Regions from separate parts of the Homo sapiens genome. Here all the other regions are linked to region 2. The links come from fine-mapping of genetic effects on gene expression. A gene starts in region 2. Each other region holds a variant in brackets. All regions are shown on one strand. Distances are between the middles of the regions.

Region 1 (2,500 bases), 400 kb after region 2:
GGCATTATCATGTAGATATTGTATAACATTTTCATTGTCTTAGAGGTTTTAAATGTAATGGCATTACATTTAAAAATGTAATGCCATTCATATAATATCATGCCTAACTTCAAGGTCTGTTTGATATTTTTAATCATGGAATTGATTTTCAAAGCTATACAGGGTAGACAAGCTGGCGATGACTTTGTTGAATCTTCCATTCTTGATGCTGTACAGAGAGTTGACAGTGCAATTAACTCCACACGAAGACATTTGTTTTCACAGTAAGAATTTATTTTACACAGATTGAAACCTTGTTTTCATTTCTGTTCTACTTAGTTTTTATCATCTCCATAAGTCACATTATAGTGCATATGCAATAGAGTGCTTTCTTTAGTCCTTGTGTATGCATCCCCATCTGGGCTAGCCATCATTATCAGTTCACCCTAAAAAAGGGGAAACTTCTTCCCCATAGAATCTAAATGGCATTAATTTATGCCAAAGGTCCATGCTATACAGGCTGACAATAGACACTAGGCAATGGGCTGGGTTACCTCAGCATCCACCAAACAGTGTCAGATGCAGTGCTCCTGCAATGTGTGAATTGAGAATGATTATCAAGTTGAACACACCTTGGTATAAACTGGGAGCCTACGACAAACATTATGTTTAGGATATTTGGCATTTTACATTATTTTAATTTGAATTGGAATGTTCATGGACTAGTGAAACCTTCCAATCCCATTAACTTCTCTGTGTTTGTAACATCAGGATGCATTAACAAAAAAATGATTGTTGATTTCATCATAATCGGATAAAGTATATATTCAGTATTTGCAGTTAGTGGTCAAAAAGGGACATCGTAAAATCCCAAATTGAGTCTCTTCTGGCTTCCTGCACATCCATAAATAGAATGGCTTTGTGATCATGCATGTGTGTTCTAGAACCACGCAGCCGATTTAGATTTATATTCTCTTCCTGATTCCTCACTTCATTACTTTCTGTCTGGGTGACCTTGAGCAAGTGACTTAACATCTTTGTACCTCAGGCTCCTTGCTCTCTAAAGTTGGGATAACAGTAGGATCTACTTCATGGATGTGCTTGCTAGGAAGAAAAAATAAGATAATATGTAAAAAGTGCTTCAACAGTGCCTGGAGAATAGAAAGTGCTTAACCAAAGTGAACTATTAGCATCATTATTATTATTCTGTGACCTCAAGTAGTTAAGATTCAAGACATAGAGGATGAGATGTGCCTCAGTTGATCAAAGTCTCTAAAACAGTTTGCTTCACATTCTCAGTGCTTTTAAATTTCTTTTTAACATATTTGGTTCAGTTCTACAAATGTGCATAAACTGCTATTATGTGCTGGTCAGTGGGCTTGGTATTTGGGATACAAGATAAATAATAGGTCAACATCTCATCAGCAACCTAGTTCTTTCTTTAGCAGAGGAGACAATATGTCAGCAATTCAAGTACATTTTACTGAGTATATAAGACACATATTTAAGGATACAGGA[G/A]TACTAGAGAAGATGGAGTGATAGCTTGTCAGAGCTCTCAGTGAAACTCTACAGGGAGAGTGAGGCCTGAGGAGGATTCTAAAGGCAAGGAGGAATTTCTAGGAGATTACACTCAGGGAAAGAGAAGACACAAAATGCCAAGTCCTGCAGACCGAGAGTATTGCATAGTACTTCAGAAGGTTTACTGAGCCTCCTATAATCCATTCATCAACCGACCCCCCCAGTTTAGAACCCCACCATAGATGTTGTTTCCTAAAACTATTGTTTAAATCATCCATTCATTAAAAATATATATTTTTGAGTTCAGCACTGGGACTAACATTTGGAATAAGTTGTTAGCAAAATAGGAAAAGAACCCACAGCTCCTCTGTAGAGCCTCTATTGTAGTGGTGGAGCTTTCATTCTTCTCGAATGTTTGGGAAATGCCTTTTTAAATGCACAGTATTTGCAAGCTTCATGGACTCTGCTGTTTTGCCTTGTAAAGAATCATGTGTTTTGTCATTTGCAGAAAACCTCACACCTCCAGTGACCTGCTGGCTCAATTTCATTACCCGCGTGACCCACTGATTGTGGAAATGGCAAGAGCAGGGGAGATTTTTGAGCACACGCTGCAGCTGATACGGGAACGTGTGAAGCAGGGGCTCACTGTGGACTTGGAAGGCAAAGGTCAGCCACAAAGCCATTTTATTCTCAGCCTACTGCCCACAGAAAAACTGACCACCACCTTAGCAAAGGACACTGAACTTTTAATCTCCAGAATATCATGGGATTTAGAAATTAATTTACTCACTACTTTTACCAAATAAATGCAGATGTTTCTCATAGGAACTGTAATTCCAAAGTAAGGATGATAAATATATATTCAAACTTGTCTCAACTTTTAAGTTATATGTATAGAGAACAAATCTAGGGAACCTACATTAAGTGAACTTGTGTTTCAAATGTAAAAGATATTATTGTGTCTTATAGAGAAATGCTTTATTACCAGGGGGATATTCTTCCA
Region 2 (2,833 bases):
TGTATTTTATATTTTGAACTGCAAACAAGGCACAAACCTGCAGGTCTTGTCTATGTCCTCCAAATCACAGGCACTGCCAAGAGCATAGTGATTGTTGGGATTTAAAGGAATAAATTTCGTTTTTTGGCTTTATTGGTATACTTGGACAATAAAAGTCATGTGAACAATGTCAAATGTAAAGTTTAAAATAAATCATTCTTGTTCATGGAGATTAGTTTTGTTTTTTAGATCTTTTTACATTTTAATCTCCCCAAAATCACATATTTAGATATGAACATTTTGCCAAAAGAGGGCAGTATTCGCCTACAGTAGAATGTAAAGGGACTGAAACATTTCTGCAGAGACAAGGATGAACTTATTTTCCTCTTAAGATTGGTCTACTAGTCTGATCATCTGGGATTGACCATGCAAGTTTTAATTTGTTTTCTATTACTTTTATGGATTTAAAACATTTTTGTTTGAAAATGTTAGTCTTTAAAGATAAAGCCAAAAATCTGTTTAAAAATACCTGCTTACAGAATGACCAAAAAGTAGATGTTTTCATATTTATTAAGTTTTCAGACACGTCCTCAACGAGGTGCTGCTCACTTCAGGGAAAGATGGCCAGTTCAAACTGCTGATGAAAAGTCTGCAACCAGCAAGACCACTGCTGCCAGTGTGTCCTGAGGGAGCTTGCATCTGTTTGACTTTACATATACATACTTAGGTTTGTCCATCAGTTGTATCCTCTTGAAGGAGGTATGTGAGTTCATGGTTTTAAGCATATAAATTTAAACGTTAAAAGAAGAAATCAGAAGTAGCCCGTTTGAGTCTTACATGAGTGAAATGTGTTGGGTTTCAGCAGCAGAATATATAGAAGGAAATGAAACAATTTTTATTAAAGAGCATAGTTTGGAATAAAGAAAGAATATGTGCACCTAGATGAACGAATTAGAACTCTGCCTGCCCTTTAGGGTTTGGTAATGTTACCAGATAAAAAAGAAGAAAAGCTGTTCTGCATTGTTTCAATACATTCTTAATCAACTTGGGCTTCAAGAGGACAGCTGGAGGCTAAGAGGTCGGGTTTTTCATCAAATGCGCAGTGGAAGTAATTTTGGAAAAGTTTGTTTGCATTATGCTGCCTAAAACACGGTGTTTTAGAAAGAGGCTTTTGCATTGAAAAGCTTCTCGTCCTCGCCTCTGGGAGTCTAGTGCTTCCTAGAGCTGCTTGTGCCCTCAGCCCTGTAATGTGATATCCCTCCTCCTGGATTGGTCAGAGGGGTGTCCTTTCCCTGGGAGCTGCTTTCCACCACGGCTCCCAAACTTGGCTCAGTCCAGCAGCCACCATCACCACCACTGCGGTTGCTGCTGCAGCTGCAGCTGCTGCTCTCCCTCCGGCTGCTTCTTCGCGTGGCCAGCAGCGAATGGAGCGATGGAGCCCAGACTGTTCTGCTGGACCACTCTCTTTCTCCTGGCCGGGTGGTGCCTGCCAGGGTTGCCCTGCCCCAGCCGGTGCCTTTGCTTTAAGAGCACCGTCCGCTGCATGCACTTGATGCTGGACCACATTCCTCAGGTACCACAGCAGACCACAGTTCTGTAAGTTCACATAAATTCCCCAGAAACCCTCTTCCCCAATGCTTCATTGCTTCTCTGCTAGGACCTGTGTCCTTTTAATTTACGATTCCTAATGCTCTCCCTGCTTGTATACTTAGAAGAGGCTTTTCACTTTTCAAACAATTTCATGGTTCTGCTCTGTTAGACTAGAAAATGTAAGCAATGATGAGTTGACATAAATATATTTGTTTTGGATTCAGTTCTCTTCCAGCATCTTCCAGAACTTAGCATTGAGAATTCTCGTCTTCATTCTTCCTTCAATAATTTTCCTGCATACTTTCTCAATTTATTCCTATTCATCCTCTACTCCCAAGTCTTTGGGCCTCTTAATTGGTCAGCACGTGTCTGCCCCATTTGGAAGGAACTAATTTAACTTTAGAGTGTGGTTTCAATTGATTATGTGCTGACAAATTGTTAGGCTTTGTACTGTGTGTACCTCCTGGGAGGGTGAAGTCCTGAGCCCTCAGCACTTGAAGCACTGTCTGTCTCCAGAACAGACCCTCAAATGGTCCAGTAGAGTTCTTGAATGCTTAAAAGCCTTGTGGAGCAGCCGCTTAGACTAATCGGCATCTAGGAGGCATTACGGGATAGTAGGGCAAACCAGAATTTGGAAGTCAAACAGGTCTGAGTTCAAATCCTATCTTCTCATCTTTAATATTCAGATAATAAACCCAAACATTTAGATTTATTTAGATTAAATTAAGTCATAATTAGATAATTAGAAGGGCAAATCACCACAAAAGAAGAAAAGGATCTGTTTCTAGGGTCTATTTTTAAAGAAAGAAAAAGACGACAAATTCAAAAATTTAAGAAAAAATAAAAGAAGAAAAGGAAAAATGCTGAAAGATGCAGACTAAAGAGGTTTCCTGCTCTATAATAAATATTTTGTGGGTTGTGTCATGTTCATGGAAGACAAAACTGCTTGCAGTGTTTCAAGTCCATTCTTGGGCAGAGGGAAATAGCTTAAAATTCCTGGAATTTTGAGATATAAATGTTTAAGAGGATCATTGCCACACATTTGTCAGTCATAATCGTGAAATGAGGACTTGGTAATAAAAAGTCCAATTTGATGGTATTTACATAGAAAATGACATATTATCCATAGATTTTCATTTCTATAAAGCATTTCATTAATTTTATATGCATGCAGATATCAAAATACGTCTTACTGTAATAACTGAAAGGATTCTTGAACTTGGGAGCACTGCTTATTGCTATGTGGACAGCACAGTTCTGCAAG
Region 3 (2,500 bases), 450 kb after region 2:
AACCCACTTATTCAGTTCATTCTTGGCTTTCTGAGAAGTGGAGACACACTGCACACTCTGAGGGCAGAAGCTCTCGGCCAGAAATCTGAACATGAAGCCCTTTCAGAGGTAAGCTGCTCTGAGTCCTCAGTTGAGCAGGGCTGGGCGTGGTTCCCCCAGGCCTGCAGCCTTTAGGAGGATTGTGTGCTGCATTTTTCCCCAGGGTTCCCCTGTCCTCTCAAGCACACTGTGGCCTCTATATTCCTATGCCACTTGCCCAGGGGAGGCCTGTCCCCTGGGGTTGTGGGGGAGGGGAAGAAGGCCCATCTTTGGGGTGCTCATCTTCAGGGCACCGTGCTCCCAAATCCCTGTGAGCTCATTGTCCGCGTGCTGCAATGAGCGTCCTGTGATGAGGACCTCATGCTGGGGCCAGGCGAGACCATTCCTCTTGTCTTTGGTTGAGGTACATGCTGATCAAGGCCTGAGCTCTTCAGGGAGAGCACAGGCATGTGAGCTTTCCTGTCTGACAGCATTAATCAGCATATTTGGTTTTTCAAGGTCACAGAAGACCCTGTTTAATCATTTTTTTACACACTATTATGGGGGCCAGGAATGTACCGACACAAGGTCTGAGAAAACCAGTTTTGATCTGAAACCAAGGGGTGACCTGGAATTCAGTTCTAAAACACTGATTTCTTTGAAGACGAAAAAGCTCTTAGAAGGATCCTCAGGATTATCGTAAGTAAAAAGCAAAACTGGTACTACCTGTTTACTGTTTCAGCTAGCCCCCTCCTGTCTTTTAGCCTGGGAAGAGAGAAGATGAAATCCCATGGGCTCTGAGCCCACATCATCTGAGAATCTATTTCATTTAAAGATAATTCATTAGGTTTCATTTTTAATCTTATACTAAGATGAAACTTATCATAATAGGTTTCTATTTGGTCATTTTTCTCCTTGTGGAGAAACGTGGGATAATTCTAATTCTCCTTTGGTGTGACATCATGTTTATCCTGTGAAGATGGCTTTCTTTTTTATAATGAATCTTTTCTTCTGCACTAAACAGACACCTTCCATCCCAGACTCCCTAGTTTCTTCATGCTGCATGATTTAGAGTTGCTTCATTATTCTGATTTTACTTATCAGTTTTTCTTTCAGAACATTATAATTCATCAAGGTCTTTATTAAAGTGTGATGCCCAGAAGTAGGCATAGCTTTAAAGGTATGTTGTGGATATTGACAGAATTGTCCAATCTGTT[A/G]TATTTCTTACCTACTCAAAAACAAACCTACAAGCCCTCCATTAGGAAAAAAATAAAAATCATGTGGTTAATCTCCAAAAAAAGTCAGGGATCCTTTCTTCCCTAGGCATCCTATTTGTTCCACTCTGGTGTTGCCAACTTCTTTCTTTTACCTTGTGGGTTAATTTCTCTGCCCATGTTATTTTGACACATAGATTTATACTCTCTATTGTGTGTGTATACTGACTCTGATTTTGTCAATATGAGCAAGTTGCATCTAAATATGTATGAAAAAATATGTGCAAATGCATCTGAAGAAGCCACATCAGATACTGTCTGCTTAGATGACCTCCTTCAGGGACCACTTCTTGATATTCTCTGTATAATTACTTATCTTTGGGCCACCCAGCATTTTACTGGAAGTCATTCTGGGAATGCTGTGATTTGCACAGGAACTGCCATCAGTAGTACCAGAGAATGTGGAAACATGGCAGAGGCGAGGCAGTCCAGGAGTTCTGTGCTGCTTCTGTGTGTACTCTTGCCTCAGGTAGATGGATGTCTTTGGTACAAGATACATAGGAGAAAACCAGTATACTTATAACTTAGTCCATTAATACAGCACTCTGGAAGGATTAATACTGGTAAGGATAATGAGACTATATTCTGATTCAAATAATGGGATATTCTGGCCAAAGATTATGTTGCTTGTTGTCCATGAGGAGGGGTTTTTGTTTTTCTGGGTACTTGAGAAAATGCTATTCCATTGACAGTGTCCAAATTATGTCAAAACAACTTACAAGTTGACTCAGAGCTTATATAAACAGTAGGGTGGTTTGGGGGATAATTATCAGATGAATCAGCTGCTTGATTGGAGTTTTTGTTCTTTTAGCCAGCAGAAACATAATAATTCAGTGCTGTAGGTAAGGCCTAGGGAATAGTAAGTGCCCACTGAAAATATTAAGAAAAGATAAGGAACCAAGAGAGCTCCGACAGAGGCGTAGCTGGTGAAGTGATAAGCAGCAAGTGTTCAAAATGTTGTTTGATTGGATTTTCTTTTAAGGAAAAGGGAAAAGGGAAACCTCATGAGACAAATGCTAAATTTGTAGTTATCAAAAGATCACAGTAACCAAGATTGATAAATGAATGACTATAACGAGAAAGCCAAGAATCTTATTTTACCAGCATAAAAGATAAAGCAAAAATTTTCAAATTTTCTTTGAGATTTAATATTTTATATCACTTAACATACTTTACAGAACATTTCACATTAAATTACTAGGTTCTTT

Evidence for each region. PIP is the estimated chance that this variant, and not a neighbour inherited with it, causes the effect. A credible set is the group of variants that fine-mapping cannot tell apart.
Region 1: its variant is the best candidate, but not a certain one, in a credible set for the expression of PXDNL in left ventricle (GTEx, PIP 0.80).
Region 3: its variant is the best candidate, but not a certain one, in a credible set for the expression of PXDNL in atrial appendage (GTEx, PIP 0.72).

The regions. Positions count from the first base shown.
Region 1 is chr8:51,410,913-51,413,412 of GRCh38, reverse strand. PXDNL (peroxidasin like) reads left to right here. Exons shown (of 23, transcript NM_144651.5): 15 at 155-263; 16 at 2,006-2,163. Among named protein-coding and RNA genes, the nearest start is that of PXDNL, 400 kb to the left of the region's middle. The variant G/A (reference allele first, on the strand shown) is at 1,498.
Region 2 is chr8:51,807,923-51,810,755 of GRCh38, reverse strand. It overlaps PXDNL (peroxidasin like), which reads left to right and starts at 1,311. Exons shown (of 23, transcript NM_144651.5): 1 at 1,311-1,575. The coding sequence starts at 1,412. RefSeq lists enhancers at 894-1,415, 1,416-1,938.
Region 3 is chr8:51,356,544-51,359,043 of GRCh38, reverse strand. All of the region lies in intron 19 of PXDNL (peroxidasin like), which reads left to right. Among named protein-coding and RNA genes, the nearest start is that of PXDNL, 450 kb to the left of the region's middle. The variant A/G (reference allele first, on the strand shown) is at 1,236.